2 separate regions of the Homo sapiens genome follow, and region 2 is linked to region 1. The links come from fine-mapping of genetic effects on gene expression. A gene starts in region 1. The other region holds a variant in brackets. All regions are shown on one strand. Distances are from middle to middle.

Evidence for each region.
Region 2: its variant is fine-mapped to the expression of MROH2A in sun-exposed skin (GTEx, PIP 0.98). The same link has a PIP of 0.9 or more in esophagus mucosa.

The regions. Positions count from the first base shown.
Region 1 is chr2:233,773,790-233,782,960 of GRCh38, reverse strand. It overlaps MROH2A (maestro heat like repeat family member 2A), which reads right to left and starts at 4,631. Exons shown (of 42, transcript NM_001394639.1): 1 at 4,480-4,631; 2 at 3,509-3,616; 3 at 3,109-3,290. The coding sequence starts at 3,602.
Region 2 is chr2:233,823,005-233,832,175 of GRCh38, reverse strand. It overlaps MROH2A (maestro heat like repeat family member 2A), which reads right to left. Exons shown (of 42, transcript NM_001394639.1): 34 at 9,158-9,171; 35 at 8,512-8,620; 36 at 3,397-3,546; 37 at 3,104-3,286; 38 at 2,401-2,556; 39 at 636-767. Among named protein-coding and RNA genes, the nearest start is that of HJURP, 27 kb to the left of the region's middle. RefSeq lists an enhancer at 8,845-9,171. The variant C/T (reference allele first, on the strand shown) is at 3,697.

The DNA.
Region 1 (9,171 bases):
ATGCTAAAAAAAGTATTTGATAAATTCAGCAGCCCTTTATGATTTTTTAAAAACTCAACAAGCTGGGCATAGAAAGAGCATACCTCACGATAATAAAAGCCATATATGACAAACCCACAGCTAACATTGTACCAGATGGAAGAAATCGAAAGCCTTGTTCCTAAAATCTGGAACAAGATAAAAATGCCCACTTTTACCACTGCTCTTCAACATAATACTGGAAGTCCTGGCCAGAGCAGTTAGGCAAGAGAAAGAAACAAAGGGCATACAAAATAGAAAGGAAGAAGTCAAATTATCCTTGTTCACAGATGACACGATCTCATACTAGAAAAATACAAAGACTCCATCCAAAAACTGTTAGAACTGATAAATAAATTTAGTTAAGTTGCAGATTACAAAATTAACATACAAAAATCAGTAACATTAGTATATGCCAAATGGCAAACAACAGAACACTTCACCCATTTTGAAAAAGAAACCAAGAAATCCATTTCATTTACAATAGCCACAAAAATATAAAATACCTAGGAATAAATTTAACCAAAGAAGTGAAAGATCTATGCAAGGGAAACTATAAAACACTGATGAAAAGAATTGAAGAAGACACCAAAAAATGGAAAGCTATTTCATGCTCACTGATAGAAAAATTAATATTATCAAAATACTACCAGAAGCAATTTAGAGATTCATTGAAATCTCTATCAAAATACCAATGACATTCTTTACAGACAATTTTTACATGGAACCATAAGACTCCAAACAGACAAACCAATCCTGAGCAAAAAGAGTAAAGCTGGAGGCATCATACTACCTGATTTCAAAATATACTTTAAAGCCATAGTAACCAAAATAGCATGGTACTGGCATAAAAACATGCACATAGACCAATGGAACAGAATAGAGAGCCCAGATGTCAATCCATGCATTTACAGTCAACTCATTTTTGACAAAGGTGCTAGGCACATATAATGGTGAAAGGACAGTCTCTTCAATAAATGGTGCTGGGAAAACTGGATAACCATATGCAGAAGAATGAAACTAAACCCCTATCTCTCACCATATGCAAAAATCAAATCAAAATGGATTAAAGACTTAAATCCAAGACCTGAAACTATGAAACTACTAGAAAATAATCATTGGGGAAATGCTCCAGGAAATTGGTTTGTGCAAAGATTTTTTGTGTGAGACCTCAAAAGCACAGGCAACAAAAGCAAAAATAGACAAATGGGATTATGTCAAGCAAAAAACTTATGCACAGCAAAGGAAACAGTGAACAAAGCGAAGAGACAACCCACAGAATAGGAGAATATCTCTCCATCCTACAAGGGATTAATAACCAGAATACACAAGGAGCTCAAACAACTCAATAGCAAAAAAATCAAATTTAAAAATGGGCAAAAGATCTGAACAGACATTTCTCAAAAGAAGGCATACAAGTGGCCAACAGGGATATAAAAAAATGCTCAACCTCACTAATCATCAGAGAAATGCAAATCAAAACCACAATGAGATATTATCTCACTCCAGTTAAAAAGACTTTTATCCAAAATATAGAAAATAACAGATGCTAGCAAGGATGTGGAGAAAGGGGAAACCTCACACATTGTTGGTAAGACTATAAATTAGTACAGCCATTATGGAAAACTCTATGGAGGTTTCTCAAAAAAAGTAAAACTAGATTTACCGTATGATCCAGCAATTCTACTACTGGGTGTGTATCCAAAAGAAAGGAAGTCAATATATCTAAGAGATAGCTGCATTTTCATGTTTATTGCAGTACTATTCACAATAGCCAAGATATGGAATCAACGTAAGTACCCATCAATGTATGAAGGGATAAAGAAAATGTGGTATACACAGACAACGGAATATTATTCAACCATAAAAAAAAGAAACCCTGTCATTTACCGTAACATGAATAAAACTGGAGGACATTATGTCAAGTGAAATGAGTCAGGCACAGATAGATAAATACCACATGTTCTCACTCATATATGGGAGCTATAAAAATGGTGAGCTCATAGAAGTCAAGAGTAGAATTTCGGTATTAGGGTATGGGAAAGGTAAGGGCAGGGGAGGATAGGGAGAAGTTGATTAAAAGATACAAAATTACAGCTGGAGAGAAGGAATAAGCTCTTGTGTTCTATAGCACTGTAGGTTGTGAATATAGTCAACAATGATTGATTGTATATTTTCAAAAAACTAGAAGAAACAGTTTTGAATGCTTGCAACACAAAGAAATGATAAATGTTTGCAGTGTTGGATATACTAATTACCCTGATTCGGTCATTACACATTGTATATATGTTTTGAAATATCACTTTGTATTCTATAAATATGTACAATTGTTATGTGTCAACTAAAAATAAAAGGGGGAAAACGCAAATGCAAATCCAAATCCAACAAAAATAATAAAACTTTTTATAAATAAGCTCCTCTGCTCATAGCACCCCTTTGCTACCCACTCCAAGACAAAAGGGTAGTCTAAAATCCAACAGTTCTCAAAGTAGGCTCTCCAGATCAGCCTTGGCATCACCTGGGAACTTGTTAGAAATGCTGATTCTCAGGCTCCACCCCAGACTTACTGAATCAGAAACTCTGGGGGTGGTGCCCAGCAAGGTTTGGATCAGCTCTGTTCCAAACCCTTGTCTAGTCCAAAACCTTGTCTGGTACCACGTGATGCAAACCTTGTCTGTACAAGCCCACCAGGTCCCCTGGTTGCACTTTGTATCACTCCCTCCAACATCCTCTACCCCAGCCCCTTAACCCAGCTAGGCATCTCCCCACTAGCCAAACATCCCTGCACACTGTGTCTGGTGTATCTTTACTCTCCCATGCCCACTGGCTCAACATCTTTGCAACTCAGCTCATGTGCTGTAGGACAATGGCTCCCAAACCCACTGTGTCAGAAGACAAGGGAACTTTTAAAAATTATGAACATCTCAGGTCCCAATTGGTCCTCAGGGAGTAAGCACCTCACAGTCTTGCCCATCTCTGTATCCCAGTACCACACATCACATCTCTGATAGTCAGTAACTATGTGCTGGGTGGTGGATGGATGCACACAGAGCTAAAGGTGGCTGAGCCCAGTGGGTAAGATGGCCCTACCTCTGGCACCTGCAGGCAGCGGATGAGAGTGTTTATCACTACAGAAGGCTCAGTGGTGGCCTTCTCCATGATTATCACCGAGGCCAGGGTCTTCCGCATGTCAAGGCCTGCCCCTGTTGTGTCCGTCTTTGCTGACTCGCTGTCAATGATGTCCAGAAGGTTCACGACTTGTTGAAAGGTACCTATGAAAACAAACGCCACCCAGGTGCAGTGTGGAAATGACCATGACAGGAGGTGCCCTTGTGTCCCTGGCCTTGCCTCCACCTGCGCAGCTCCAGCTTCATGTGTGGTATGATGTCCACTGTGCAGATGGAGAAAGGGAGACCTAGGCTGGGGCTGCAGTCAAAGAGTTAGTGTCTGAGATGGGGCAGGAAAGCAGAAATGTGGATGACATTCTTACCACTGTCATGTAATTCAAGAGGCCCCAGGTCGTCTCTTTCCTCTGACACCTCCTCACTTGAGGCTACTGCTGCTTCTGTAATGGCTTCAGTCATCTCTTCCTCAAGCTCTTTTGAGATCAACAGAATTTGTAAAATACGGGGTGTGACACACACCTTAAGATGACCCCAACGACCCACACCCTTCCATAAAGCCATCCCCTTGAGGGTGTGTGGGTGGAACCTGTGACTTCCTTCTAATCAACAGAATATGGCAAAGGTGATGGGTGACCCTCTCTCGAGTGGATTACATCATATGGCAAAGATGGTGGGATGTCATTCCCATGATCACACTATGCCACATGAGATTCCCTCTTATCAGATTGAACAGAAACATTCTACTGGCCTTGAAAAGTAAACAGCCATGATGCAAACTGCCTGTGGTGAGGGCCACGTAGCAAGGAACTGAGGGCCTCAGTCCTACAACCATAAGAAACTGAATTCTCCAATAAGCACATGAGCTTGGAAGAGGAAGCTGAACTCCAGAAAGGACTGCAGTCTCTGAGACCCTAAACAAAGGACCAAGGAAAGCCATGCCTAGACTCCTGGCCAGTGGAACCGTGAGATAATCAATGGATGTTCTTTTAAGCCACTGAGTTTATGATAATTTGTTACACAGCAATAGATAATATCCTTAGTTTAATAGAGCCCTCTCGCCCTCTCTTCTACACACTGATAATTAATGGCTAATGAGAAATTCATATCAGTATCTCTCATAACTCCTTTAAGGGGTTCTCTCAACATCCACAGCTTCTTAAAAATTGAGAAACACCAACATAGATGTCGAGATGGTGGAAGAAAGGCTCTCAGATCCTTTCTCCTCCTGTCCCAAGTTCCTTGATCCTCAAAGATCCATCCCATGGCCCTTTACTATCCCATACTCTCTTTTCCTTTAAAGGATTTTAAAGAGCTACTCTGGGACCTAAATACTGACCTTTCCTTAGGGTCTTCTTCTGGATTAAACAGATATTAACCACAAGAAAAAGCTCTGCTCTTGGCCCAATACACATCAATGGAAATGCAAATGGAAGAATTGGTTATCAAAGTGAGACAGCTGGGCTCTTCAGTCATATTTCTTATAGGAATGGGTCTCCTGGAAGGGTGGGAGGGTTTCACTAGAACTATCACCGTTAGATCCCAGACCCTCGGAACTTTGAGATCCAACTGCCTCCCTGAGTCTCTATCAACCCAGGTCTTTGAAGAGTGCACAGGGCTCTGGGGTGAAAACTCCACATCATGTTGTCATTCAACATTTCTGTTATTCACATGTGTGTGCTGAAGTACAGGGGCCTGTTTGGGAAAGGGAGATGGTAGAAGTGGGGATGGCTTACAACCAAGTCCCAGGGGAACACAGTCATGTGAGCCCTGGGTGGGGAGGTGTGGTCAGGACAGTTGGAGAGGAGAGGAGGGGCAGACTGAGAGGCCCTGGGGAGAGCACTCCTCCTTCCCGGGGACTGGATGACTTGCAGGATAAGAAATTGGATTTCCACTAGCACAATACTTACAAGATAAAGAACATCAAAGACAGGTAGGAGAGGAGGCACCCTGATTTCCTAAACCAAAAGTGGAGCCCAAAGGATTTCCCTGTCATTTATAGCTAGGAGAGATGATCCAGATCATAGGTACAACAATGAAATATTGGCCTTTGGGAAATCTTTCTATGCACTGCAAGACAACAGGAACAAAACTCAGAGACATCTAGGGCCAAGGTTGCTTAAGTGGAATTTCCACTCCAAGTTTGCCCATCCAGCCAAATGGGAGTTCCTCAGCCTGTGCTTGGACACCTCCAATACGAGGGAGCTCATTACTCTCAGGACCAGCCTCTTTCTACTTCATGGAATTCAGATGGTTAGAAAATGAGCTTTCTTATCATGCCCAACATTTCTTCCTCATAAAATTCCTGCGTTATTCCTTGTTCTGCACTTGGAGATACATTGATCAACATGAAATAGACACAAGCAGCTATCCCATGCCCCTTCTTTCACAGGACTGCCCCTCTGCACTACCTCCTCCCACTCCCCACTGAGCCTTCTTTTCCGTTTGAAAGATCACTGAGGTGATGTGGTTGCCAAGTCCATTCCACAGGCCCAGACTGCACGCCTACTGTGTGCAGCTAAGCATGGCTTTCCATGCTGCAGTGGATATAGGGTAGGTGGAACACATCTCTGTCCTCTGAAGGTCTTCAGACTCAACACATGAAAAGTGATACATTTAGAGCCAGAAGTGAATGTGTCAGCAATTGCTGTGTAACAAACCACCTCAAAACTTAATGACTGAAAACAACCGATTATTATAGTTCACAAGTGTATGAGTCACCTGCGTGGGTCTGTGGATCTGTGCTCTGTCCAGCCAAGCACAACTAGAGTCTCACCCATGTATCTCAGACAGCTAGAGGGCTGGCCATTGGCTCGCTATTGGCTGAAATGACTAGGGTGATGGGGACATTGTGCAGCAGGGCTCACCCAGGCTGTTCTCATAGCAGCTGGACAGGGTTCTGAGACAGTGAGCGGGAATATGAAGGCTTCTTGAGGCCTAGACTTGAAACCAGTGCTCATCACCTGCCACACTCTGTCAGCCAGGGCAGGTCACAGGCCAGCCAGGACCCACAGGCTGGAGAAATAGATTCCTCCTTTTCATGAGAAGAGTTGCAAAGTCACATTGTGAAGGATATGGCAATCAGGAGGAGTGGAGAAAGGGGTCATTTTTAAATTACACACAGGTCGAGTGTGTAAGCCATGGCCAAAAGTAAGAGGCCCCTGAGCATGTTATCTACAGAGGACATGAAGACAGTGAGACCAAGGAGGAAGAAGGGGGCTCTGCTTGGCTTTCCAAATTGAAAATACTTTTTTTCATGGGGAAACGCTGTCTCTACTAAAAAATACAAAAATTAGCCGGGTGTGGTGGGGTGGCATGTGCCTGTAATCCCAGCTACTCAGGAGGGTGAGGTAGGAAGAATCACTTGAACCCAGGAGGCGGAGGTTGCAGTGAGCCAAGATCACACCACTGCACTCCAGCCTGGGCAACAGAGTGAGACTCCGTCTCAAAAAAAAAAAAAAAAAAAGTAAATACATTTTTTTCTGATTATGACAACAATATTGAACTCACAATCCACTCACAAAATCAGCTTCTCTTAGGTGCTGTCACTCTATGGCACGTTGCACCACTACTTCTATGGGAACTACCCAGGAAATAAGAAAACGCTTTATTCGTAGCATCCTGTGAGCTTAAATACACAAAAGGCCCAAGACATAATGTGGGAAAATGGAAATATTGTGCAGAAGCTGACTGTATTAGTCCATTTTCATACTGCTATGAAGAAATACCCAGGACTGGGTAATTTATAAAGAAAAAGAGGTTTCATGGACTCACAGTTCCACATGGCTGGGGAGGCCTCACAATCATGGCAGAAGGTGAAGGAGGAGCAAGGGCACATCTTACATGGTGGCAGGCAAGAGGAAGTATGAGCAAGAGGGGGAAAAGCCCCCTATAAAACCATCAGATCTTGTGAGAACTCACTATCACACAAATAGCATGGAGATAACTGCCCCCATAATTCAAATCACTTCCCACCAGGTCCCTCTAATGACACATGGGGGTAATGGGAATTACAATTCAAGATGAGATTTGGGTGGGGACACAGCCAAACCATATGACTCACCCAGAGGCAGTCTCTACAGGGTGGATTCTGCCCGGCTCACAAGGTTCCCTCTCCCGTGGCCCAAGCAGCCACAGCAATGGGATGGTGGGAGCCATGTTTTTCTCTCCGTAATCCCTCTCGGCATTGATGATTGGACAGGGAGAGGACACCTGATCCAGCTGGACCAATCAGATTCTGACTTTCAGGAAGGTGGCACTCCAGGCCAGAGAGAATCCAGTCTGTCTCTTGTGGGATCTTGGGAGCTAGGGCAGAGGAATATGGGGACTGAGGGGCCGAAAAGACCCGGAGGAGAGGGAAGAGGAAAGCTGGCACTCTGACCCAACAGGGACAGGAGTGAGAAGGGGAGGCTCCACCCAGCGCAGGCCTGGCTATGAGCCTCGCGTCGTCAGAAGCCTGTCTCCTTACAAAAATACTGTTTATGCTTAAGGTATCCCGAGTTGGGTTCTCTCACTTGTAAACAAGAGTGCCTCAGTGCTGCAGACACGAAGGTGCAAATGAACATGAGCTGGCTGGAGGTCATGGCAACTTGGGGTCCCTGAGAGAGGTTGGGGCGTCAAGGAGCTAGGGGCAGTGAGGCCGGGAGATGGTCCCCGGGTGGACCAGGAAGGGCTTTGAAGGAGGGTGAACGTAGTTGAGGGGTGACTGCACAGCCTCAAGGATGTAGAGAGGGAAATAGTGGACAGAATGTGTTCCAGCCACTGCCTAGGGAAGGAGATGGAGCTGGGGTCAGGGAACCAGCTGAAATCTTCGCTCTGCACCACCCCAGCTCCAATTTGAAGCTTACAAATTTAAAACTTCTGCTTGTAATACAAAACAAAAAAAGTAAAACAAGGCAAAAAAAAAAAAGTAGAGAAAATACAGTAAATGACAAAAAGGACATTCTGGTGAATGCAATAAGCACTCTTACCAAATCCTCAGGGTAATACACTCCAATAGGAAAGTGGGCAAAGGGTATCCTCCAAAAAATAAACACAGACGGCTCATCAGCTTGAAAAGAAATACAATCTCTAATAATAACAATAATAAAAGCACATTGTAAACAAGATCCTGCTTTTCTCCTATCAAACTGACAGGCTTTCTTTTTCAAGATAGTACTTTGTGCTAATGAGGGTGTGGGAACCTGTCTCCCTCACACGCTGATAGTAAGTTTGGGGATGCAGTGTGGGGATTTCTTAAGCTATTTGTCCAGGGTAGCAGTGCAGGTGGTGCCCCACACAGATCCCCTGTGTACCTCTTCAGTGACAAGGGCGTGTGTTTTTTCTCGTCAGCTCTCTCTGTCAGAGCCCCCTTTGTGGCCTAATGGAAGGGCAGAGAAATTACTACTACCTGGGAGTACGTTTCAATCCCTGACGAGGCAAGTACTCAGGCACCCAACAGCCGTGTTCCTCATTGGGATAAGTCTGGGGTGTCTTTTCTCCACTGGCTCCCAGAGTCACCCAGCAGGATTAAGCTCCGATTGACCACAAGAGAGCCAGCTGTGGATGACCATCACCCCTTCTCACTCTGCCACTCCTCTATCAGTGTTTCCTTTACTTCCTAAATAAACTCCTGGCCCTTGAATCCTCATCTCAGGGGAACCCAGACTGAGACAACTAGCAATTTGTTGTAAAGCACTTTCCAACAGAAGTAATCATGAATATGTGGAAAGCCTTAGCTACTAGGATGTCCAGTGAGATTTTTGTTGTTGTTGTTGTTGTTGTTTTGTTGTTGTTGTTGTTTTTGAGACAGAGTCTGGCTGTGTCACCCAGGCTGGAATGCAGTGGCATGATCCGGACTCACTGCAACCTCCGACCTCCGAACCCCCTGACCCCGGTTCAAGCAATTCTCCTGCCTCAGCCTCCCAATTAGCTGGAATTACAGGTGCTGGCAACCACACCCGGCTAATTTTCTGTATTTTTAGTAGAGACGGGGTTTTGCCATGTTGGCCAGGCTGGTCTCAAACTCCCGATCTTAGGTGATCCACCCACC
Region 2 (9,171 bases), 49 kb before region 1:
TGCAAAAAGTAAGTGATACACACAGCTTTGGAGGATGAGACCCTGACAATGGGCTGTCATTCATCAAGCGTGTTCCCATCACCAAGATGCATCAGAGAGGGCAAGCGCCCATCCCAGCGTCACACAGCAGGTGAGTAGCTGGCAAGTGAAGGACCACTGGCCACCAGTTATATTTTTCATATCCCATCTGACCAGAGAACCTGTGCTGTCCAACATGGTAGCCACAAGCCATGTGTAACCCTGCAGCACTTCAAGTGTGGCTGGTCTGAATTAAGGTAAAGTGCCCCCTGGGTTTTAAGATGGTACCCCAAAAATTGTAAAATATCACAATAATAGTTTTTATACTGATTACATGTTGAAATGATCATGTTTTAGTTATTTGAGTGAAATAAAATACATGAAAATTAGTTTCACCTCTGCACTTTTCTGGATGTGCCTACTAAAAGAAACATCAGACAGCTGAAATAGGCACATGACTTGCCTTCTATTTCTGCTGCACAGTGCCGGTCTCGACATGGCATGTGTGGAAGGTAAACATAGGGCCCCAAGAAAGAGCTGTGGCAATCTCGACCCCCCAGCTCCAAGCCAGCGTGTGGCCACCTGGGACGGGCTGGTTCCCCCTTTGGCTTCCTCACCAGGATGGAGCACATGGTTGTCTGGAAAACGGTCATCTTGTCATCAGTAGCGGTATCACTTGGCCCTGAGGGATGCTCCAGGGACTTCCAGCCCCAGAAGTGCACACACTGAAACATGGTAGCCATACAGGCCTGCAGGGACACAGGACGGCAGCAGAGCCATCAGCCAGGCCACGTGGTTCCCCAGAGGGGTGAGGCTGGCAGGAAGCCAGAGGGCAGCCCCAGAAAAGCCTCACCAAGCCAAAGAAAGGCAGGGCTGGTGGCTCCTGGGAGGCCACCTGGGACCTGGGCCCCTGCCAGCTTGAACATGGCTGCAGGTACATTTATAGAAAGCCCCTTGGGGGCAGATGCAGCCCCACCCGCCCCCTCAGCCAGCACCTTCGTGCCCTCAGCAGCCCTGCCTGGGACCCAGCCCTCCATGGGATCAGAGGCGGGAGCCGGGCTTGAGCAGGCAAGACTGGGCACGTGTCCTCACCTCCCAGGCCCAGTCCACCAGCATCTGCCTGTGACCAAGCCTGCTGGCCACAGCTTCTGGAGACGGCAGGGCAGGAAGACAAAATGCTTCTGTCTCGGTAGCCCTTTCCTCACTCTCGGTCACCATTGCTGGGTGCACCCTGGTTCCTTCCCTGAAGCCCCCCCACCCCACTGGACAGTTGTCGATAAAACATGGAAGAACAGTGTGGGCTGAAGACAGAGGGTGGTGAGGACTGGCAAGGAAAAGGAGCCTCTGGGCAGTGACACCTTGTGCCCAGGGTGGCCAGGGATGGTGTGGCAGAGGGATGTGGCAAAGTCCAGAAGCTGGGGTGGTGAGTGCAAAGCCCAGGTCTAGGGAGTGTGCATCTCAATCCCCCTCACTGCCTGTAAGGGCCACCTGGGCCATCCCACCTGGGCCACCAGGGCCATCCCACCTGGGCCACCTGGGCCATCCCACCTGGGCCACCCAGGCCATCTGGGCCACCCGCTCCACCCCACCTGGAAACTGCTGCCCTCATAGTGACAGTACTTGTCCTGTGACCCCAGAGCTGGAGTCCAAGGCACCTGCTGAAAATGACCATTGCATTTCTTTCATGTTAGGCCAGCTGCGTCCCAAGGCTTACTAGGCGGGGGCAGAACCTCCCCAAATCAGCCACCTCCCCACTTCCTGACCCCACCCCCCAAGTCTGTAAGCAGAGACTAGGGAGAGAAGAGGGCGGTCAAGGTCATGGGCCATGCAGGGAGTGAGGATCCTGAGGTCCCCAGCCAGCCGGGGTTAGCCTGAGAGGCAGCAACTCAAATGAGAAGGCACATTTACTAACAAATCTGTCTCTCCCTCTCCTCCTGCCCCAAAGCAACAGAGGAGCTGGGCTGTGGAGAGGGAGAAGCCAGGCCCGCTCCCATCCCAACATGGGCCTGCAGGCAGTGGACAAGACCACTTTGGGGTATTTTGAGTCCTAATACTCAAAAGTGACCTGCCAGTTACAGAATCTGCTAGAAGAAAGGGTTTGGGCAGAGGAGGGCTATAGGCAGCCACCACACCATGTCCCCCGACACGGGGCTGAGACTGCTTAGTGAGGTGGCTTTGCAGGTCATCTCGGATGGCCTCTCTCCTCAGCCTGTGTGAGGGATGGAGGACAGCAGGGAGCAGGCTGTGGCCTCTGGGATCTCAGAGAAAACCAACTGAGGCAGAGAAAAGCTTGCAGCTCACCGAGCCAGCAGACCCAAGGACCTGTTTCCTCGGGGAACAGCGGGCCCCAGACTGGGACACAAAGCCCAGGATGTATCTTACTTGGGCTGCATTGGAGCAGGGGTCCTGGGAGTGCAGCATGAGGGGGATCCAGGCCTTCTTCACCTCCCCTTTGAAGAAATGCTTCTTGGACATCCCGACCACCCTTGCCAGCTTTCCAAAGAGGATGAAGGCTTTCAGACGCAGCAGCTCGCTCTCCTGTGGCCAGGATGGACACAGGCTGACATGCAGGCAGCAGGAAGCCCAGCAAAACCCCAGCCATTCTCCAAGGAATACCCAATGCCTTGGTCCCTGCAGAGCCTTCTGGATCATTCCGTCAGGGTGTAGTCTCTCCTTTGGCAGGGATCACGTAGCCCTCAAGGGGCTGGGCATTGCTCTGGTCTTTGTGCCCGCCTCTTCCCTGGGTGAGGGCTTGTGCAGGATCTGAGTGCACAGCCCTGCCTAGCAGAGGCCCAGGGTGACACAGGTGCCCTGGGGGTATTTGTAGCTGCAAGGAATAAAAGGGGGAGACCCTTCCCTCCTAGCAGGGCTGCAGAGGCCCAGGAGCCGTCACTTGACAGCACTGATTCTCTGGAACTTAGAAGAATACCTTTTACTTCACAAGATCCCGTGATCAGCCAGTCGCTAAACTGACACCCAGCAGGAGCCTCGGCTCTTTTCTGCTCTAGAGCCCATCTCTTCCTTAGGGTCTGAGAAGTGCCCCTCCTTCACTGAGCAAGCTCAGGGAGGCTCTCATCGGACTCACGTTGTCGAAGAAGATCCTGCACTGCTCAGACATGGCGTCGAAAGAGGACCCCACATCCCCTTCCCGGAGCTCAGCCAGGATCTTGGTCAGGGCCTCCATGCCCTCGGCAGTCACGCTGTTGCTCACGGGCTCCCTCAGGGGGCCCAGGCACTTCTCCAGCAAGACCTTCCGGTACTGCTTCACCTGGAGGGGCATGGGCAGCCCTCAGCCTGCACCCTCCCTCCCAGGCTGACCAGGGCACCCGGCCTGCACCCTCAGCTCCCGGGACCTGGGCCCAGGGCCAGGCACAGTACCTTCTTGGGGGCGCCCAGGGCCATGTTGCCGAGGGCGCGCAGGGACAGCACCCGCAGGGCCTCGTCTTCCTCCTGGTCGGCACCCTTCTCCAGCAGCAAAGCTGCCGGCTTCAGCAGCTTCTCCTGGTACAGAACTGGGCCGCTCATGAACTGGAAGGGAGGACATTGGGCAGTTATCCCCAGGGCGGGCTCATTTCTCAGCAGCAAGGTGGGACGTGGGAGGAGAGGTAATGCAGATTGGTGGCTCTGTGGACAGGAGGGGAGGGGCTCTGAGAGCCTCCGTTTCCTCTCTATAAAAAG[C/T]GGGTGATGCTAGTACCTGCCTCAGGGTCTGTGTGGGGATTTAATAAGGAAATATGGGGGGAATGCTAGATAAGTGTTACGTATATATATAAATTCGTCATTTATTTTTTCAGGTAACATAACAGCCACTGCCAAATGCAAGAGCCACGCCCACCTGCATCTGAACAGAAAGGCACAAAAAACATGAATTTCACTTTCAGGAGAATTACTAATGGCCTAGTATTCTGAGTGCCAAAACCTCACTGGTATGCGTGTGGGTGCATGCATGTGTGTACATGTGTGTACATGTGTGCATGCAAGTACCTGAGTATGTTTGAAAGAGGCCTGAAAACTAAACACCAAATTGGTGAGTCCAGGGACAGGAGAAATGAGCATCTATTGACTATCCCCACATCTAGTTCCTTAAACCCCCATTAGGCGCAGTTGCTCTAAGCTTCCAAATGTTTTGTCTCCACCTCAGTCCACCTCCAGCCTGTCCCAGACACCAACATCAGCAATCACAGGAGCTTCCTACAGCACTTCCATTCATTTAAACATATACTGAGCACCTATTCAGGGCCAGGTAGAGCAGTGAATACAACGATCACAACCTATTTTAAATGCTCTTCAGGGAAAATTCCTGAAGAGTAAAGCCCCCACACTATTGTCAGCAAGCATTAAAAAAAAATCATTTATAATCCATCCCTATCAAATTTGAAGAATTTAAATAGCTTGCTTCTTAAACCTGAACCTAATTTTTTTTTTAATTTTTATTTTTAGTTCTGGGGTACATGTGCAGGAAGTGCAAGCTTGTTACATAGGTAGACGTGTGTCATAGTGGTTTGCTGCACCTATCGACCCATCACCGAGTTATTAAGCCCAGCATGCATTAGCTGTTTTTCCTAATACTCTCTCTTCCCCCACCCCACTCCCAACAGGCCCAGTGTGTGTTGGTCCTCTCCCTGTGTCCATGTGATCTCATTGTTCAGCTCCCACTTATAAGTGAGAACATGTGGTGTTTGGTTTCTGTTCCTGTATTAGTTTGCTGAGGATAATGACTTCCAGCTTCATCCATGTCCCTGCAAAGGACATGATCTCATTCCTTTTTATGGCTGCATAGTATTCCATGGTGTATATGTACCTCATTTTCTTTATCCAGTGTATCATTGATGGGCATTTGGGTTGATTCCATGTCTTTGTTATTGTGAATAGTGCTACAATGAACATACACATGCATATATCTTTGTAATAGAATGATTATATTCCTTTGGGTATATGCCCAGTAATGGGATTGCTGGGTCAGATGGTATTTTTGGTTCTAGATCTTTGAGGAATCACCACACCGTCTTCCACAATGGTTGAACTAATTTACATTCCCACCAACAGTGTAAAAGTGTTCCTATTTCTCTGCAACCTTGCCAGCATCTGTTGTTTCTTGACTTTTTAATAATGGCCATTCTGACTGGCATGATATGGTATCTCCTTGTGGTTTTGATTTGCATTTACCTAATGATCAGTGATATTTAGCTTTTTTTCATATGTTTATTCGCTGCATGAGTGTCTTCTTTGAGAAGGGTCTGTTCATGTCCTTTGCCCACTTTCTAATAGGATTGTTTGTTTTTTTCTTGTAAATTTGTTTGAGTTCCTTGTAGATTCTGGATATTAGACCTTTTTTGAATGGATAAATTGCAAAGATTTTCTTCAACTCTGTAGGTTGCCTGTTCACTCTGATGATAGTCTCTTTTGCTGTGCAGAAGCTCCTTAGTTTAATTAGATCCCAATTGTCAATTTTTGCTTTTGTTGCAATTGCTGTTGGTGATTTTATCATGAAATGTTTGTCCATGCCCATGTCCTGAATGGTATTGCCTAGATTTTCTTCTAGGGTTTTTATAGTTTTGGGTTTTACATTTAAGTCTTTAATCCATCTTGAGTTAATTTTTGCATAATGTGTGAGAAAGGGGTCCAGTTTCAATTTTCTGCAAATGGATAGCCAGTTCTCCCAGCACTATTTTTTAAATATGGAATCCTTTCCCCATTGCTTGTTTTTGTCAGGTTTGTCCAAGATCAGTTGCCTGTAGATGTGCCATCTTATTTCTGAGTTCTCTATTCTGTTCCATTGGTCTGTGTATCTGTTTTTGTACCAGTACCATGCTGTTTTGGTTACTGTAGCCTTATAGTATAGTTTGAAGTCCAGTAGGGTGATGCCTCCAGCTTTGTTCTTTTTGCTTAGAATTGTCTTGGCTATACAGGCTGAATTCTACAAGAAATACAAAGAGGTGGTCGGGCGTGGTGGCTCACGCCTGTAATCCCAGCACTTTGGGAGGCCGAGGCGGGCAAATCACAAGGTCAAGAGATCGAGACCATCCTGGCCAACATGGTGAAACCCTATCTCTACTAAAAATACAAAAATTAGCTGGGTGTGGTGGCACATGCCTACAGTCCCAGCTACTCGAAAGGCTGAGGCAGGAGAATTGCTTGAACCCGGGAGGTGGAGGTTGCAGTGAGCTGAGATCACGCCATTGCACTCCAGCCTGGCGACAGAGCAAGACCCTGTCTCAAAAAAAAAAAAAAAAAAAAAAGGAAAAAGAAACACAAAGAGGTGTTTATACCATTTCTTCTGAAACTATTCCAAACCATTGAAAAGGAAGGACACCTCCCTAACTCATTCTATGAGGTCAGCATCATCCTGATACCAAAACCAGGCAGAGATACAACAAAAAAAAGAAAACTTCAGGCCAATATCCCTGATGAACATCGATGCAAAAATTCTCAATAAAATACTGGCAAACTGAATCCAGCAGCATATCAAAAAGCTCATCCACCACGATCAAGTAGCCTTCATTCCCAGGATGCAAGGCTAGTTCAACATATGTAAATCAATAAACGTAATTCATCACATAAACAGACCTAAAGACAAAACCACATGATTATCTCAATAGGTGCAGAAAAGGCCTTCAATAAAATTCAACATCCCTTCATGTTAAAAACTCCCAACAAACTAGGTATTGAAGTACCTCAAAATAATAAGAGCCATTTATGACAAACCCACAACCAATATCATACTGAATGGGCAAAAGCCGGAAGCATTCCCTTTGAAAATCGGCACAAGACAAGGATGCCCTCTCTCACCACTCCTACTCAACATAGTATTGGAAGTTCCGGCCAGGGCAATCAGGCAAGAGAAAGAAATAAAGCGTATTCAAATAGGAAGGGAGGAAGTAAAAATGTCTTTGTTTGCAGATGACATGATCCTATATCTAGAAAACCCCATTGTCTCAGCCCAAAAACTTCTTAAGCTGATAAACAACTTCAACAAAGTCTCAGGATACAAAATCAATCTGCAGAAGTCACAAGCATTCCTACACACTAACAACAGGCAAGCAGAGAGCCAAATCATGAACTCCCATTCACAATTGCTACAAAGAGAATAAAATACCTAGGAATATAGTTAACAAGGGAAGTGAGGGGCCTCTTCAAAGGAGAACTACAAACCTCTGCTCAAAGAAACCAGAGAGTACACAAACAAATGGAAAAATATTCCATGCTCATGGATAGGAAGAATCAGTATCATGCAAATGACCATACTGCCCAAAGTAATGTATAGATTCAATGCTATTCCCATTAAACTACCATTGACATTCTTCACAGAATTAGAAAAAAATTATTTTAAAATTCATATGGAACCAAAAAAGCTGAACCTAATTTTTAAACTGCCATAATTAGCTAGCATTTAATGAGCACTTACCTCCCAAGCAAGCAATGCATACACGGTCTATCTCATTTAGCTCTCACCAAAGCCCTGAAAAGAAGGCACTGCTTTCCCCAGTTGGGCAGATGGAGAGCTTGAAGCTCAGAGACGCTAAGTAACTTCATCTCCAGCCAATCAGCAACTGAGCGGAGGCTCTTAACCAGGCCCTCGGATTCCAGCACCTGCGCCTGGCCCTGTGTGGCTTCCAGCCGCTGAAAATTCCAAACTCAGGCACATCAAAGGACAGGTCCTGGGTGAGACAACGAGGGAGCACTTCTCCTTCCCATCCTCATTTTGAAGATTTACAGAGGCCTGAACACAGGGAGGGGCCTGAAGAACCTATAAAAGCTTGGTGAGTACCTCCCAGACTGGTCTTGTACTTCCAGGAGCTTTTGTACAGCCCACTGCCAAAACTCATTTTCCCATTTTTAAGTGTTGGGGAAAAGAAATATAGAAAAGAAAATTCTATGGCACATGAAAATTCCATGAAGTTTAAATTCCAGTGTCCATCAATAAGGTTTTGTTGACACCGTCATGCCCACTGGTTGACTTATTGGCTGTGGCTGTTTTCCTGCTACAGCTTAGTTGGCCACAAAGCCAAAAATTTACTCTGCAGTCCTTTACAGAAAACACTGGCCGGCCTCTGGCCTGGGCTGTGGTTGGTTCCTAGGGTGCATTGGGCATCATTGCCCTCAGGACGCTCCAACACTCACTCTGAGATAGGGTCGCTGGGCCCTGCCTTCCCACCTAGCAAAGCCCCTCGGCCTCTCTGAGTCCTCCTGCAGGAAGCCTGCCCCAGCGAGAACCCAGGTGCCCTCCCTGGGTCCCCTGGGTCACTGTACTTGCCTGGGTCACACATCAGTTAACTGCAATGCTGCAGGGCTCAGCCTGTCTTTCCAGCAGGGCCTGCCCTGCACTACTCATGTGATGAATGAATGAAGGAGCAGATGAGAGAATGAGCACTCAGAGGAGGGGCGCTCGCCTGTCCCCCCGACTCCCATGCCTTGGAGACAAGCCATCCCCAGAAGAATCCAGGGACCCCATCCCCTCCGCTTGCACCCCGCCCACACCCGGTGCCTCATTTCCACGCAGACCGCTGTGCTGCTGATGCGGCAGCTCAGGACTTCTGAGTCCATGCCCCTGAGCACCAGCTCGGCCAGCCTCTGCCTGTGGCCCTCCACGTGCTGCATGCACAGCCTGCAGAGGAGAGACAGTGCCAGGTCGTGGAGGCGGCCCCACCCCTGCCTGACGTTTGCCAAGAGCTGGGCAGGGCCACATCGGTGCCTGGACCCTGGTGGCAAGATAACCCCGGAAAGATGTCGTAACATCTCTGGGTTTCTCCCTCCTCTTCCTGGGGACTTGGTTGAGGTTGTCAGTGAATCAGTCAATGTCTATCTCCTTTTTACAAAGGGGACTAGAGTGAGGGCGGCTCCGGAGTGACTAGGACCCCAGAAGTAACTCCCATCCCTGGCCTACTCTAGACCCTGTGTGGCCCTGGGGGCGAGCCCCTCCTCTTTCTGCCCTCATATCTGCTCTGAGCAGGAAGGGTTCGAATAAAAGGTTCTCATTCTCTTGCACACCACTGCCATCCTAGAGTCACAGGTTGGCGTGGCAGTTCCCCCAGAAAGAAGGCCTTCAGCCATGACTGGACCATGTCCTCACAAGGAGCCCTTCCATCCAGCAAGGAGGTGCCTCTGCAGGTCCCCCTGCCACCCTGTGGGAGCCAGGGCCCACCTGGCCAGCAGGCT